Homo sapiens: one gene and its partner. The protein of the gene in region 2 interacts with the protein of the main gene of each other region in a biochemical or structural test. Each region holds a gene or a part of one and is shown on either strand. Other genes may lie near its edges.

What was found. The genes of interacting proteins can lie anywhere in the genome.
Region 1: of the proteins of TRA2A (region 2) and UBE4B, one has a biochemical effect on the other in vitro, tested with the Homo sapiens proteins (one study listed by BioGRID).

The regions. Positions count from the first base shown.
Region 1 is NC_000001.11:10,035,934-10,042,957, reverse strand, and holds part of UBE4B (ubiquitin conjugation factor E4 B), read right to left. Parts: intron 1-7,024. UniProt on the Homo sapiens protein: Ubiquitin-protein ligase that probably functions as an E3 ligase in conjunction with specific E1 and E2 ligases. May also function as an E4 ligase mediating the assembly of polyubiquitin chains on substrates ubiquitinated by another E3 ubiquitin ligase.
Region 2 is NC_000007.14:23,528,971-23,536,218, reverse strand, and holds the start of TRA2A (transformer-2 protein homolog alpha), read left to right. Parts: upstream 1-4,237; 5' UTR 4,238-4,394; coding exon 4,395-4,430; intron 4,431-4,948; exon of another isoform or gene 4,949-5,038; intron 5,039-7,248. UniProt on the Homo sapiens protein: Sequence-specific RNA-binding protein which participates in the control of pre-mRNA splicing.

The DNA.
Region 1 (7,024 bases), on a different chromosome or scaffold from region 2:
TCTAACCATGCTTGGCATCCTTGCTATTCCTGGAACAGCTCAAGAATGAGTTTACCTCAAGGCCTTCTGAACCTGCTGTTCCCTTTACCTGGGAACATTCTTCCCCGAGCAAGCTCCCAGCCATCCCTGAAATTCTTTTCAAGACCACCTCCTCAAAGTGCACACGTTACACATATCTGATTGTTCTCTGTACCTGTAGGCCACAGAAATACTCTGTAACAATACTCCATCCCTAAGTATTTCTCTTCACAGCACTTCTCATCAAATGACACCTTATGTGAACATGTTTGTTTGTTTGTTTCTTTGCTTTTGAGACACAGTCTCACTCTGTCGCCCAGGCTAGAGTGCAGTGGTGCAATCTCAGCTCACTGTAACCCCTGCCTCCCGGGTTCAAGCTATTCTCCTGCCTCAGCCTCCTGAGTTGCTAGGATTACAGGCGTGCACCACCACGCCCGGCTAATTTTTGTATTTTTAGTAGAGACAGGGTTTCACCATGTTGGTCAGGCTGGTCTCGAACTCCTGACCTCGTGATCCACCCGCCTCAGCATCCCAAAGTGCTGGGATTACAGGCGTGAGCCACCACGCCCGGCCATGCTTGTTTTTTATCCCTCTCCTCCCACTAGGACGAAGCTCCATACAGCAACGTTTGTCTGTTATCAGGGATGCAGCTAGTCAACTGTAAGCGCTGTTGAATGAACCGTTTACAGGAAGACATTTCCACTAGATACTACAAGTGCCGTGTGAGAAAATGCACTTTGCACAGAGAAGTCTTTCTGCCTTCTTTCCCTACAAGAGCTTGGGGCTACTTGATGAGCTCCACTCTCAGCAATAACAAACGGGAATGAAAGTCCACTGGAGGGCTGGGCCTGGCGGCGGGCGCCTGTAATCCCAGATACTCGAGGGGCTGACCCAGGAGAATCGCTTGAATTCAGGAGTCAGAGGTTGTAGTGAGCCAAGATAGCACCACTGCACTCCAGCATCATGCCTGTAATCCCACAACTTTGGGAGGCTGAGGTGGGTGGATCATTTGAGGTCAGGAGTTTGAGACCAGCCTGGCCAACATGGTGAAACCCCTCTACTAAAAATACAAAAATTAGCCGGGCAGTAGTGGCATGTGCCTGTAACCCCAGCTACTCGGGAGGCTGAGGCAGGAGAATCACTTGAACTCGGGAGGCGGAGGTTGCAGTGAGCAGAGATCGTGCCACTGCACTCCAGCATGGGGACACAGCGAGGCTCTGTCTTAAAAAACAAACAAACAAACAAAAAGTCCACTGGGGCTTCCACTTCCTATCTCAGAAGGGACCGTAAGAATGCTATAAATGTGGCCGGGCACAGTCGTTCACGCTTGTAATCCCAGCACTTTGGAAGGCCGAGGCGGGGGGATCGCCTGAGGTCAGAAGTTCGAGACCAGCCTGGCCAACTTGGAGAAACCCCATCTCTACTAAAAATACAAAAATTAGCTGGGCATGCTGGCGGGAGCCTGTAATCAAAGCTACTTGGGAGGCTTAGGCAGGAGAATTGCTTGAACCCAGGAGGCAGAGGTTGCAGTGAGCCGAGATCAGGCCATTGCACTCAAGCCTGAGTGACGAGAGCGAAACTCCATCAAAAAAAAAAAAAAAAAAGAATGCCAAAAAGGTTACAGTTGGCTGAGGTTAAGTCTTGTTTTAGAGGTAGTAAAGCGATAGAAAACTCTGGAGTCAGAACCTGGATTAGAGTCCAGGTTCTACCACTTACTAGTTGTGTGCCTTTCAATAAATTAATTTCTATTAGCCTCCATTTTCTTATCTGTAAAACAGGGGATAAGGATGCCAACCTTGTGAAGCAAGTTTATATCCTTATTATCATTCTCTGTCTCTTGTCTACAATGAACAAAAGGAGAGGAAAGGGCCTGGCAGGATACATCCCACTGTCCTCCCAGGCTTAAGAAAGAGTCCTGGTTATAAAGTGAATGGTAGCAACTATCTTCTGAGGAAAAAAGGGACCTCAGGTCCTCAGGCCTGTTACAAGGGAAGAAATGGTCAAAGAGGTGGGGATGTTAGGCTGGGTGCGGTGGCTCACGCCGGTAATCCCAGCACTTTGGGAGGCTGAGGCAGGCAGATCACCTAAGGTCAAGAGTTTGAGACCCGCCAAGCCAACATGGAGAAATCCCGTCTCTAATAAAAATACAAAAAAATTAGCCAGGCATGGTGGTACATGCTTGTAATCCCAGCTACTCGGGAGGCTGAGGCAGGAGAATCGCTTGAACCTGGGAGGCAGAGGTTGCAGCGAGCTGAGATCGCGCCATTGCACTCCAGCCTGGGCAACAAGAGCGAAACTCCATCTCAAAAAAAAAAAAAGAAAAAAGAAGAAAGAAATGGAGATGTTAGAGCACCAAGGCCAGAGTGGGGGTCTACATGTGGACTCATCTTTTTGGTGGTCCAAAATTAAACTTGCAATCTCAGCACTCTGGGAGGCTGAGGTGGGCAGATCACTTGAGCCCAGGAGTTTGAGACCAGCCTGGGCAACATGGCAAGACCCTGTCTCTACAAAATATACAAAAATTAGCCGGAGGCCTGGCGTGGTAGCTGACACCTGTAATCCCAGCACTTTGGGAGGCCATGGCAGGCGGATCACCAAGGTCTGGAGTTCAAGACCAGCCTGGCCAATATGGTGAAACACCGTCTCTACTAAAAATTAAAAAATTAGCTGGGCATGGCTGGCAGCTACTTGGAAGGCTGAGGCAGGAGAATCACTTGAACCCAGGGGGCAGAGGTTGCAGTGAGCTGAGGTTGCGCCACTGCACTCCAGCCTGGGCGACAGAGGGAGACCCTGTCTCAAAAGACGAAAAAAAAAAAAAGAAACATGTGCTTTCTCCAAAATCTGCTGCTTCTCTGGAATTCCTTATTCAACCCTTATCTATCCTTCTCCATAGCTAGAAACCAAGGTGTCATTTCTCCATCTCTCCTCCCCTCCCCTCCTTCACAGCTAACTGATCATCAAAACTGGGTTAATCACAGTCCTTGGTATTTTTGGTGTCTGTCTGCTCCCCTCCATTCCCACAGGCAATGCCTTAGTTCCCTTGGACTCCACTGCCTCGCTCCTATACAGCAACAACAGCCTCCTAATATGTCTTGCAGTCTGCAGCCACCTTCTCCCAAACTACCCTTTACTCCCTTGCCACCCATCTTTCTAATCTCTTAAAATCCCTAAAAGGCATTTTACAGAGAAAGTTCAAACTCAGCCACGTGCAGTGGCTCACGCCTGTAATCCCAGCACTTTGGCAGGCAGAGGCAGGTGGGCCACTTGAGGTCAGGAGTTTGAAACCAGCCTAGTCAACATGGTAAAACCCCATCTTTACTAAAAATACAAAAAAAAAAAAAAATCAGCAGGGCATGGTGGCATGCACCTGTAATCCCAGCTACTTGGGAGGCTGAGGCAGGAGAATCACTTGAACCCGGGAACCAGAGGCTGCAGTGAGCCGAGATCATGCCACTTCACTCCAGCCTGGGCAACAGAGAGAGATTCTGTCCCAAAAAACAACAACAAAAAGAAAGTTCAAACTCCTAAACGTTTCTGACAGCCCTCCAAGATCAGGTACCTGCCACACACCCGAGGTAAAACCCACCTCTCCAGTCACACTACTTGCTGCTGTTTCTTGAGCTCCCCAATTTCGAGCCAGTTCCCAGGGCAACTGCTACTCAGCGTTAAGTATCACTTTTTCTTGAAAGTCTTCACTAAGACCCTGCCTCTCCCGGGGTCCCTTCTCATGTTTCTTAAGTGAGTTGTGCATACCTCCACCATAGCACCTGGCACTATTCTATAACTGTTGGATTCCTATCTATCTCCTCTACTCAAATTTAATTATAATTGCTTTTTTGTTTGTTTTTCTGTGTGTGTGTTTTTTTGTTTGTTTGTTTTTTTGATGGAGTCTTGCTCTGCCTCCCAGGCTAGAGTACAGTGGCGCAATCTCGGCTCACTGCAACCTCTGTCTCCTGAGTTTAAGCAATTCTCCTACTTCAGCCTCCTGAGTAGCTGGGATTACAGGTGCGTACCATCACACCCAGCAAATTTTTGTATTTTTAGTAGAGACGGGGTTTCACGTGATCCGCCTGCCTCGACCTCCCGAAGTGCTGGGATTACAGGCGTGAGCCACCGCGCCCGGCCCCAACTCCCAAATTTTTAACGCGACAGGCATTTAAAAAAAAAATTGGGAGTGGGAGGACCAGTACCAAAAGCCCTGATCACATCATGAATGCATTCATGCAAAACAGCACTTCTACAGAAAAACTATGTATATCAAAACAGAGTGGGTCAGTGTTACGTAGGATGTTGATACAAAAGCTGTGGTGAATTTATGTCAGTTGTTGAGCAGTAGAATAAAGAGGACTTTCGAGTCCAGAGCACTGGGTTTGAATTCCAACCCCATCACTTCTAAGCCAGGTCGCTATGGACAAGTTACTTAACCTGAATCCCAGTTTCCTGACTTGTAAAATTAGGAAAACAGTACCTGCTTGATTATAATGTTTTCTCTAATGAGAAACAGCTATCAAGTGCCTGGCACAGAAGAGGCTCCTAAGGCTGTTGTTTAATGTCAATTTTCTTCCACTTACAGAACCTTGCTAAAAAGTCCAAGGTCACATATTCTGCATTTGGAAAGGAATACTTAAAACACTTTCTAAATCTTTTTTTTTTTTTTTTGAGATGGAGTTTCACTCTTGTTGCCCAGGCTGGAGTGTAGTGGTGTGATCTCGGCCCACTGCAACCTCCGCCTCCCGGGTTCAAGCAATTCTCCTGCCTCAGCCTCCTGAGTACCTCGGATCACAGGCATGTGCCACCACGCCCAGCTAATTTTGTATTTTTAGTAGAGATGGGGTTTCTCCATGTTGGACAGGCTGGTCTTGAACTCCCGAACTCAGGTGATCCACCCACCTCGGCCTCCCAAAGCGCTGGGATTACAGGCGTGGGCCACTGCGCCCGGCCAACACTTTCTAAAATCTTGACCACACCCGGAATCCCAGCCAACCATCTTGCAGATGAACTAGGTCATAAAGAAGAGTTAGGAGAGAAAAATCACTTATGCAATCTCATTACCATTGTCGAAAAACAGTTTAAAACACCTACTTGGCTGGGCATGGTGGCTCATGCCTGTAATCTCAGCACTTTGGGAGGCCAAGGCGGGTGGATCACTTGAGCCCAGGAGTTTGAGACCAGCCTGGGCAACATGGTGAAACCCTGTCTCTAGAAAAAAATACAAAAATTGGCCAGGTGTGGTGGCATGAGCCTGTAGTCTCAGCTTGGGAGGCTGAGGTGGGAGGATCACTTGAGCCCAGGAGGCAGAGGTTGCAGTGAGCCAAGATCATGCCATTGCATTCCAGACTGGGCGATAGAGCCAGACCCTATCTCAAAAATAAACACACCACCTACTCACAGCACCACCTTGAGATACGAAAAACAACACATGAGTAGATTATAGAATTAATATAATGTAAATAATGATGCCTTGGAATGTAGGTTCCTGAAGAGAATGAACTTAGTCATGGTTCTGCAATGAACCTATAGGCAGTGAACTATAGGGCAATGAACTCACTGTAATACACTATATAAATAACAAACAACAGTGAAGTTAAAGTACTCTACTTAAAAGCACAAGACTACCGGGCACAGTGGCTCATGCCTGTAATCCCAGCACTTTGGGAGGCCGAGGCAGGCAGATCACCTGAGGTCAGGAGTTCAAGACCAGCCTGACCAACATGGAGAAACCCCGTCGCTACTAAAAATACAAAATTAGCCGGGTATGGTGGCGCATGCCTGTAATTCCAGCTACTTGGGAGGCTGACGCAGGAAAATCGCTTGAACCCGGGAGGCAGAGGTTGCAATGAGCCAAGATCGCGCCATTGCACTCCAGCCTGGGCAACAAGAGCGAAACTCTGTCTCACAAAAAAATTTAAAAAGCACAAGAATTCTAGGTGATCTATGACAGGGACCAAAAAGTGCACATAATTTAAAAGTTCCTAAAGCTACCAGTCTGGTTATACCAGCCTTTTTCACGGACTGTATAATCATACATTTTCATTTTGTTAAAATATGAAACTCTGCCTTACCTAATTTCCTAAATTAGATTAAAAGATCACCGCCTTGCCTGTTTTAACCCTGAAATATAAGCTTGAAGTTTCAATAATATAAGTGTATTATTTTGTAATCAAATCAATGTCACCTACCATATCTGACACAAGTTTTCAACTACAGAGTAACAATACAAAGGCAAAAGCTTTGGAAATGTCTCATGAGAACTGCTTACCTAACCTCAAAAATTTTTAATTGAATTAAAAAGAAAAACTTCAAAGATATTTTTCCCAAAATAACTATTTGTCTGGCTCCCACTTTGGGAGGCTGAAGTGGGAGGATCGCTTGAGGTCAGGAGTTTGAGACCATCCTGGGAAACATGGCAAGACCCCCGTCTCTACAAAAAAAAAAAAGATTTTTTAAATTAAAAACAAACGAATATTATTTGTTCTAGGTTCTGCTGAGAGTAAAATTAACAGTTATTGAACCAGCCCTTTGTGTTCTGGACAACTAATTTGTTGAAGATAATTTTACATTGATCCTGTATTAGTGAATTTAATTTTTTTCATTTATTTTAATATTCTGTTGACCTTGAAAAAAGTTTATTCTATTTCTTCCACAAAGGTTACATGTGTTCCTCATATGGTCACAAAAAAAAGTTACACCTTCCTCAAGGACTGATGAAAGTGAAGAGACACATTTTAGATTATACAATATCTTCACTGGTCTGTAATGCCTCACTGGTTTGAAAAGAATTTTTTGGTGAAAACTCAAGTATGCAAAAGCCTCTAAACCAAGGACTATTAACAGATCATCAAAAAAAAAAAAAAAAAGTAATTTATAGGAGTAAAGGACTACTAAAAAACTACCTCGGCCGGGCGCGGTGGCTCACACCTGTAATCCCAGCACTTTGGAAGGCCGAGGCGGGCGGATCACGAGGTCAGGAGATTGAGACCATCCTGGGCTAACACGGTGAAACCCC
Region 2 (7,248 bases):
TAAAAAGCAAAGATGGGCTTTTTAATGCTGGGATCACTGGGTAGCCATTTGGAAAAGGTAAAATTAGATCTATAGTCCACATCATACATAAGAACAAATGCCAAATGGATCACGAATCTAAATGTAAAATATGAAGCTACATAACTACTAGAAGAAAACATAGTGAATTCCTCTTTAATCTCAGTATGGGAAAAGGCTAACTATGACTTAAAATCCAGGGGCAGCCGGGTGCACTGGCTCACACCTGTAATCCCAACACTTTGGGAGGCCGAGGCATGCGGATCACGAGGTCAGGAGTTTGAGACCAGCCTGACCAATACGGTGAAACCCCATCTCTACTAAAAATACAAAAATTAGCCGGACGTGGTGGTCCTCACCTGTAATCCCAGCTCAGGAGGCTGAGGCAGGAGAATCGCTTGAACCTGGAGGTGGAGGTTGCAGTGAGGCGAGATTGCGCCATTACACTCCAGCCTGGGCGACAGGGCAAGATTCCATTTCAAAAAAAAAAAAAAAATAGTGGCCAGGCACAGTGGCTCACGCCTGTAATCCCAGCACTTTGGGAGGCCAAGGTGGGTGGATCACCTGAAGTCAGGAGTTCAAGACCAGCCTGGCCAACATGGTGAAAACCCATCTCTACTAAAAAATACAAAAATTAGCTGGGTGTGGTGGTGCATGCCTGTAAGCCCAGCTACTTGGGAGGCGGAGGTTGCAGTGAGCCGAGAATGAGCCATTGCACTCCAGCCTGGGCAACAAGAGCAAAATTCAGTCTCAAAAAAAAAAAGTATGCTAATTTGGGAATCTTTTATTGCCATAGTAAAATTAATTAATTAAATTAAAAAATCAAAAAATAGTATGCAAAATATACCATAAGCAAAGTCAAATACAATTTACAAACTAGGAGAAAATATTTGCAACATAAAGCACAAATAAAAGGCTAATATTCCTAATATACAAGGAACTCATAAAACTTGAGGGACAAAGGATAAAAATCCAATAGAAAAATGGAAAATAGGCCGGGCACAGTGGCTCACACCTGTAATCCCAGCACTTTGGGAGGCCGAGGTGGGCGGATCACCTGAGGTCGGGAGTTCGAGACCAGCCGGACCAACCTGGAGAAACCCCGTCTCTACTAAAAATACAAAATTAGCCAGACGTGCTGGCGCATGCCTGTAATCCCAGCTACTCGAGAGGCTGAGGCAGGAGAATCGCTTTAACCCGGGAGGCGGAGGTTGCAGTGAGCTGAGATCGTGCCATTGCACTCCAGCCTGGGCAACAAGAGTGAAACTCCGTCTCGGAAAAAAAAAAAAAGAAAAATGGAAAATAGACAATTCCGAAAAAAGGACATTATATATATGTTTAAACATATCAAAAGTTTATAACTGAAATCTGGGACAATTCAAGCAACAAAATAAATAATGATAGCAATGGATTATAACTCATAAAGCAAATATCTCCTATCATCCCGGCACTTTGGGAGGCCGAGGTGGGTGGATCACTCGAGGCCAGGAGTTAGAGACTAGCCTGGCCAACATCAAAACCCCGTCTCTACAAAAAAATACAAAAATTAGCCGAGCACAGTGGCATGCACCTGTGGTCTCAGCTACTGGGGAGGCTAAGGCAGAATAATCTCTAGAGCCCGAGAGACAGAGGTTGCAGTGAGCCAAGACTGTGCCACTGTACTCCAGCCTGGGCACGGGAGTGAAACTCTGTCTCAAAAAAAAAGGCAAAGAAAAAAGAAACTACTCTTCTAGGCCCGGCCTGGTTCCTCAACACTTTGGGAGGCCTAGGCGGCAGGATCACTTGAGCCCAGGAGTTTGAGAGCAGCCTGGGCAACATGGCAAAACCTGGTCTCTACAATAATTTAAAAATTAGCTGGGCATGGTGTTGGGGGCCTGTAGTCCCAGCTATGTGAGAGGGTGTGGTGGGAGGATCGTTGGAGCCATGATTGTGCCACTGCACTCCAGCCTGGGTGACAGAGTCAGATTATGTCTCCAAAAAATAAATAAAAGGAAAAAAGGGTAGGGGGGAAGACTCTTAGTCCATAATAGTCTACCTTTCTCCCATCCTTGATTGTGAATTTAATCTGTTGGGGAATGTGGTTATTTGTCCTGTGGAAGTTGATTACTTCATCTCGGTGTTTTTATTTTTCCCTTTCTTGTATTTCCTGTAAACTGTTGGCTAGATCTAAGGTTTAATTAGATTTGAGTTCAATTTGAGGGATCAGGAATACTTCACAGGAGGAACTGGGTATTTTCTATTGCATCACATCATGAGGTATCTCGTATCTGGTTATCTCACTTTTAATGGTACTAAGATTGATCAGTGGTTCAAATGGTATCAACCTGGCTGGGCGTGGCAGCTCACGTCTGTAATCCCAGCACTTTGGGAGGCTGAGGCGGGCAGATCATCTGAAGTCACAAGTTCCAGCCCACGCTGGCCAACATGGTGAAACCCCATCTCTACGAAAAATACAAAAATTAGCCGGGTGTGGTGGCACGCACTGTAATCCCAGCTACTCGGGAAGCTGAGCCAGGAGAATCACTTGAACCCGGAGGTGGAGGTTGCAGTGAGCCGAGATCGCGCCACTGCACTCCAGCCTGGGTGACAGAGCAAGTCTCCGTCTCAATAATAATAATAATAATTTCTTTTGTAGAGATGGGGGCTCACCATGTTGACCAGGCTGGTTTCGAACTTCTGGCCTCAAGCGATCTTCCGCCTAGGGTCTCCAAAGTACTGGGATTACAGGCGTCAGCCACCACACCCAGCCAAGTTCAACATCTTTTCTAAGAGCCAGATGTCATTTAAGTTTATCCCTATCAATAACTGACATTCAAATGCTGAAATCTTGCCCCCAGTGGTAGCAATCTTCATAATAATGCCAGATGAACTTTCCTACCATAGAACTATAGTTGAAAGTCTATGTCAATCTTTTTACTACAAAGCACTGTAGGAAAAAAATTTAAGATGAAACTAATTTTTAAAGTTGCATTACACAAGTAAAACTCATCTCAGAGATTATTACTATGATTGGGAACCAAGTTGACAGATTTGGGAGGTCTTCACTGTGAAGCTTTATGGAAATATCTAAGTCAAAAAAACTAGTAGGGAGCTAAGCATTATAAAAAAAAAACTACACGGCTGTCTCTAGGAGGGGGAACTGGAGCAGGGACACGAGGCAAGGAGCAGCGGCTTTGCATCATAACCTCATCTGTGCATGTACTACGTCGACATTACACAGGGCAAATATGGAAGAAAAGTAATACAGTCAGCTGACAACGTGCCCCCCAAAAGCCTGTTATATATACACGATTCCAGCCGGGCGCGGTGGCTCAGGCCTGTAATCTCAGCACTTTGGGAGGCCGAGGCGAGCAGATCGCTTGAGTCCACAAATTCGAGACCAGCCTGGGCAGCATGTCAAAACCCCATCTCTGCAAAACACACAAAAATTAGCCGGGTGGGCCGGGTACGGTGGTTCACCCTTGCAATCTCAGCACTTTGAGAGGCCCAGGCGGGCAAATCACCTGAGGTCAGGAGTTTGAGACCAGCCTGTCCAACATGGTGAAACCCCCGTCTCTGCTAAAAATACAAAAATTAGCCGGGCGTGGTGGTGCATGCCTGTAATCCCAGCTACTGGGGAGGCTGAGGCAGGAGAATTGCTTGAACCTGCGAGGTGGAGGTTGCAATGAACCTAGATAGCGCCACTGCACTTCAGCCTGGGCAACAGAGTGAGACTCCGTCCCAAAAAAGAAAAAAATTAGCCGGGCGTGGTGGCGCGCGCGGGAGCCTGAGGTGGGAGGATCGTCTGAGCCCGGGAGTTTGAGGCTGTGGTGAGCAGTGATCGCTTCACTGCACTTCAGCTTGGGTGACAGAGCGAGACCCTGACTCAAAAAATAAACAAACATAAAAAAACGCTTCCAATGTTTTGTTCCCTTACATCAGAATCCACTTGGACAATATTTAAAGGGGCTAAGGTCATATAAGGCTCATCTGGCGACTGAAAAGTCTTCAAAGAGGTTGACGCGTCCGAGGTGAGTCTGAAGTTTGGAGGACAGCACGGGACCGCGATTCCAAGGCGCCCAGGTTGAGAGCGCAGGCCGCCCGCCAACCTCCACCCTCGCTCCAGGCCCAGCCGACACAAAGCCTCGCGGGAGGTGGAGCCTCGTGACGTCACAGAGACGCCCGCCCCCTTTACGTCGTGCTCTGAGGAGGCCAGGAGATTTCTGGCGGCGCCGGCGCCATTTTGCTGGAGCCTGCGACCGAGTGGGAGTGGAGTGGAGCGGCTGTGGTTGCCGACTCTTTCCTCTTCCCCACGGTCCAGTCAGCGGGTTAATTAGGCCATCGGCCCTCGAGCCGAGACTTGTCTCTTATTTAGTTCTGGGGAGCGCCTCGTCGACATGAGTGATGTGGAGGAAAACAACTTCGAGGGCAGAGTGAGTACAAAGCCGCGGGAGCCGTCTAGGCGGCGGCCCAATGCTCGGGGTTTCACGGGAACAAGCGCGGTCGGGCGGGGTTGCGGGTAGTCCCGCGAGGAGCAACCTCTGGAGCCATCGCGATTGATTCCTCCCATCCCAAGATGGCTTCTGGGTTCCACTCCTTCCCCAAACACCACGGATAACACCCCTCCCCCTTTTTTGGAGGCTGACTGATACCTGGACTTCTGGGTCCTCTTCCCTCCCCGCCCCCGCATTGCTTCCTCCCTTCTCCCCACCCCTGAGGCTTCCTTATGTCTGCTCCGAGGTGTGGGTCCCCGTCGCGGTTGGGCGGGAGGAGGCGGCAGGGAGCTCCCCTCCGTCCGGATAGTGGTAGGTGCTTCCTGCGGTGGCATTTCTGGCGACCCCGAGCATCGTAGAGGGTCTCGGGATCGAAAGTGCGCGGGGCTGCTTTCCGGGCGGGGAGAAGCTGGCGTGGGACTAGCTGGGGCCTGTGTCTCCTTGGCTCTCTATTTCAGTGAGCGGCCGCGTCTCTGTTGGAACCGGCGGCGTTGCGTCTAAAAAGGCGAAAGCCTTGAGGTTGAAGGTGGGACGAGCCTAATGAAGTGGTTAGTCAACGACCGCACCGACCCTTAAGCGTTCTTAAGACGAGAGCTGTGAGGGGAAACTACGCAAGGAGCCCTTTTCCCTTAATGTCCCTTCGACTTTCCTTTCACTTCGAAATGAATGTGGAAATGCTGTCACGCCTTATTTTTCTAATTCCTCGATGTTGGGTTTTTTCTCTTCTTTATATCTCAACTTTTAATGCTCTTCTTCCTATGACCTTTCATCTAAAAACTGACCACTCCTTTACAGGTTTTTACGGTAAAAAAAAAAAAATCTGTCTTTCTTTAATCTTACATAGCTGAACGAATTCATTGGCTCAGTATTTTTAAGATAACTAGTCAGTATATACTGTTCTGTAACTTAAAAGATGACCTGAAAATTAACAGGCCCTCTCCCATTTCTCTTCTCACTCTATCCCCCACCGAAGAGGGCTCAGAAAAAAGTTTTTATTAATATATTTGGGGTCGGAGAAATACAAACATCACAAAGAATACGATATCCCCAGCTTAAATGTACTGGAACGTTTGTCAGTGAGTTTCATTTCCAAAGTTTACCCTACATAGGGAATTGTAGAAGTGAGTTAGTAGAAGTGAGTTCGTGTGAAACCCTGGAAAGAAAACAAAAGCCCCATGCAACACGTTCCGGGCTGTTGTGTAGATGTTTATTCTAGTCACTAGGGGAAGCACATAAAAACACCTGAGGTGTGTGTGCTGAAGGGCGAATTTTGTCCTTTTGGGGAGTTCATGATATAAACATCTAGAACCAAAAAGTCAAATCAGAAGGTCAGTTTAGGCTTTAGTTCTCTTTGAGGAAAGATTTAAAGCAATAGACTATAATAGTTACCCGGTAGACTAAAAAATTTGCCTTTAATTCTTTTGATTGGAATTTTTTTTTACAAAGTTTGGAGCATGGAAACAAATGAAAATTGAACCTGCTTATTTTTTAGGATGGTGTATTGATGGCCCCAACAGAACTTTCTAAAATCATGCGATAAACATATATGATAGTAGTTGTAAAATGCTTCTTGTTTTGAAAATGTTGAGTAATTATCGATAGAAATTTTGCTGTCCATTCATACATTCCTTCAATTAACTTTCATTGTTAAAAAATTGGGGGATTGATGTTTGGTTTGGTTTGTGGGGAGTGAAGAGGACTACTGGAGGGACCTTGTTTGCTTGCTTTTTTTCTTTTTTTAATTTATCATCAAGTCTAGGAAAGGAGTAAGTTGCCGACAATTGTCACTTTTCCCTCCTAAGAAAGTAACATGTTAAGATTCCCACCTACCAGCCTGGGTGACAGTGAGACTCCCGTCTCAAAAAAAAAAAAAAAGATTCCCACCCACTTTTAAGCTAAAGTATATGTAGGCATTAAAGATTTATTTAATAGAAATAAAGGGCCCTCTTACGGCCCTTTGTGGTCATAGGAAATATTTTTTTCACAAGTGGTACCCAAGTGTATTTTAGTGTAAATCAACTAGTGCTTGTAGGCTCACCTGTTGTATCTTTTTATTTTTCGTCTTTTAGTTTTTATAGGATGAGATAATTGTCTTTATTTGTAATTGGTTAAAGAATTAGAACAATGCGAGAAGCTTGTCTGGAGATGCCCTTTTTAAAATCGTTTCTGGCCGGGCGCAGTGGCTCACGCCTGTAATCCAACAATTTTTGGGAGGCTGAGGCGGGTGGATTACTTGAGGTTAGGAGTTCGAGACTAGCCTGCCCAACGTGGTGAAACCCTGTCTCTACTAAAAATACAAAATTAGCCGGGCGTGGTGGCGTGCGCCTGTGATCACAGCTACTTAGGAGGCTGAGGCAGGAGAATTACTTGAACCTGGGAGGCGGAATTGCGCCACGACACTCCAGTCTAGGCAACAGAATGAGACTCTTGTCTCAAAAATAAGTAAATACGTAGGTCCATAAAAGCAATTTTAAGTGGAGATGTCCTTTGGAGCTGGGAGTGAAGGTAGCACTTAAGCGGTGGCTTTGCATGTCTTGATAAAAGTAATGAGTTGTTTGCCTCAATACAGCTTCAACTAAAATTCGGATTTTGAGCTCAAAAAATGTTAATGCCCTTCATAGAAATTAAGGGGAATGGAAATCTTTTCTTAACATTTTACACCTCTACCCCTAAAATTTTAAGAACTGTACTTTATAAAAATGTGCAATTTTCATACAGCATCCCAGTGTTGATCATGGAGGTTAATGATTCTTTATTG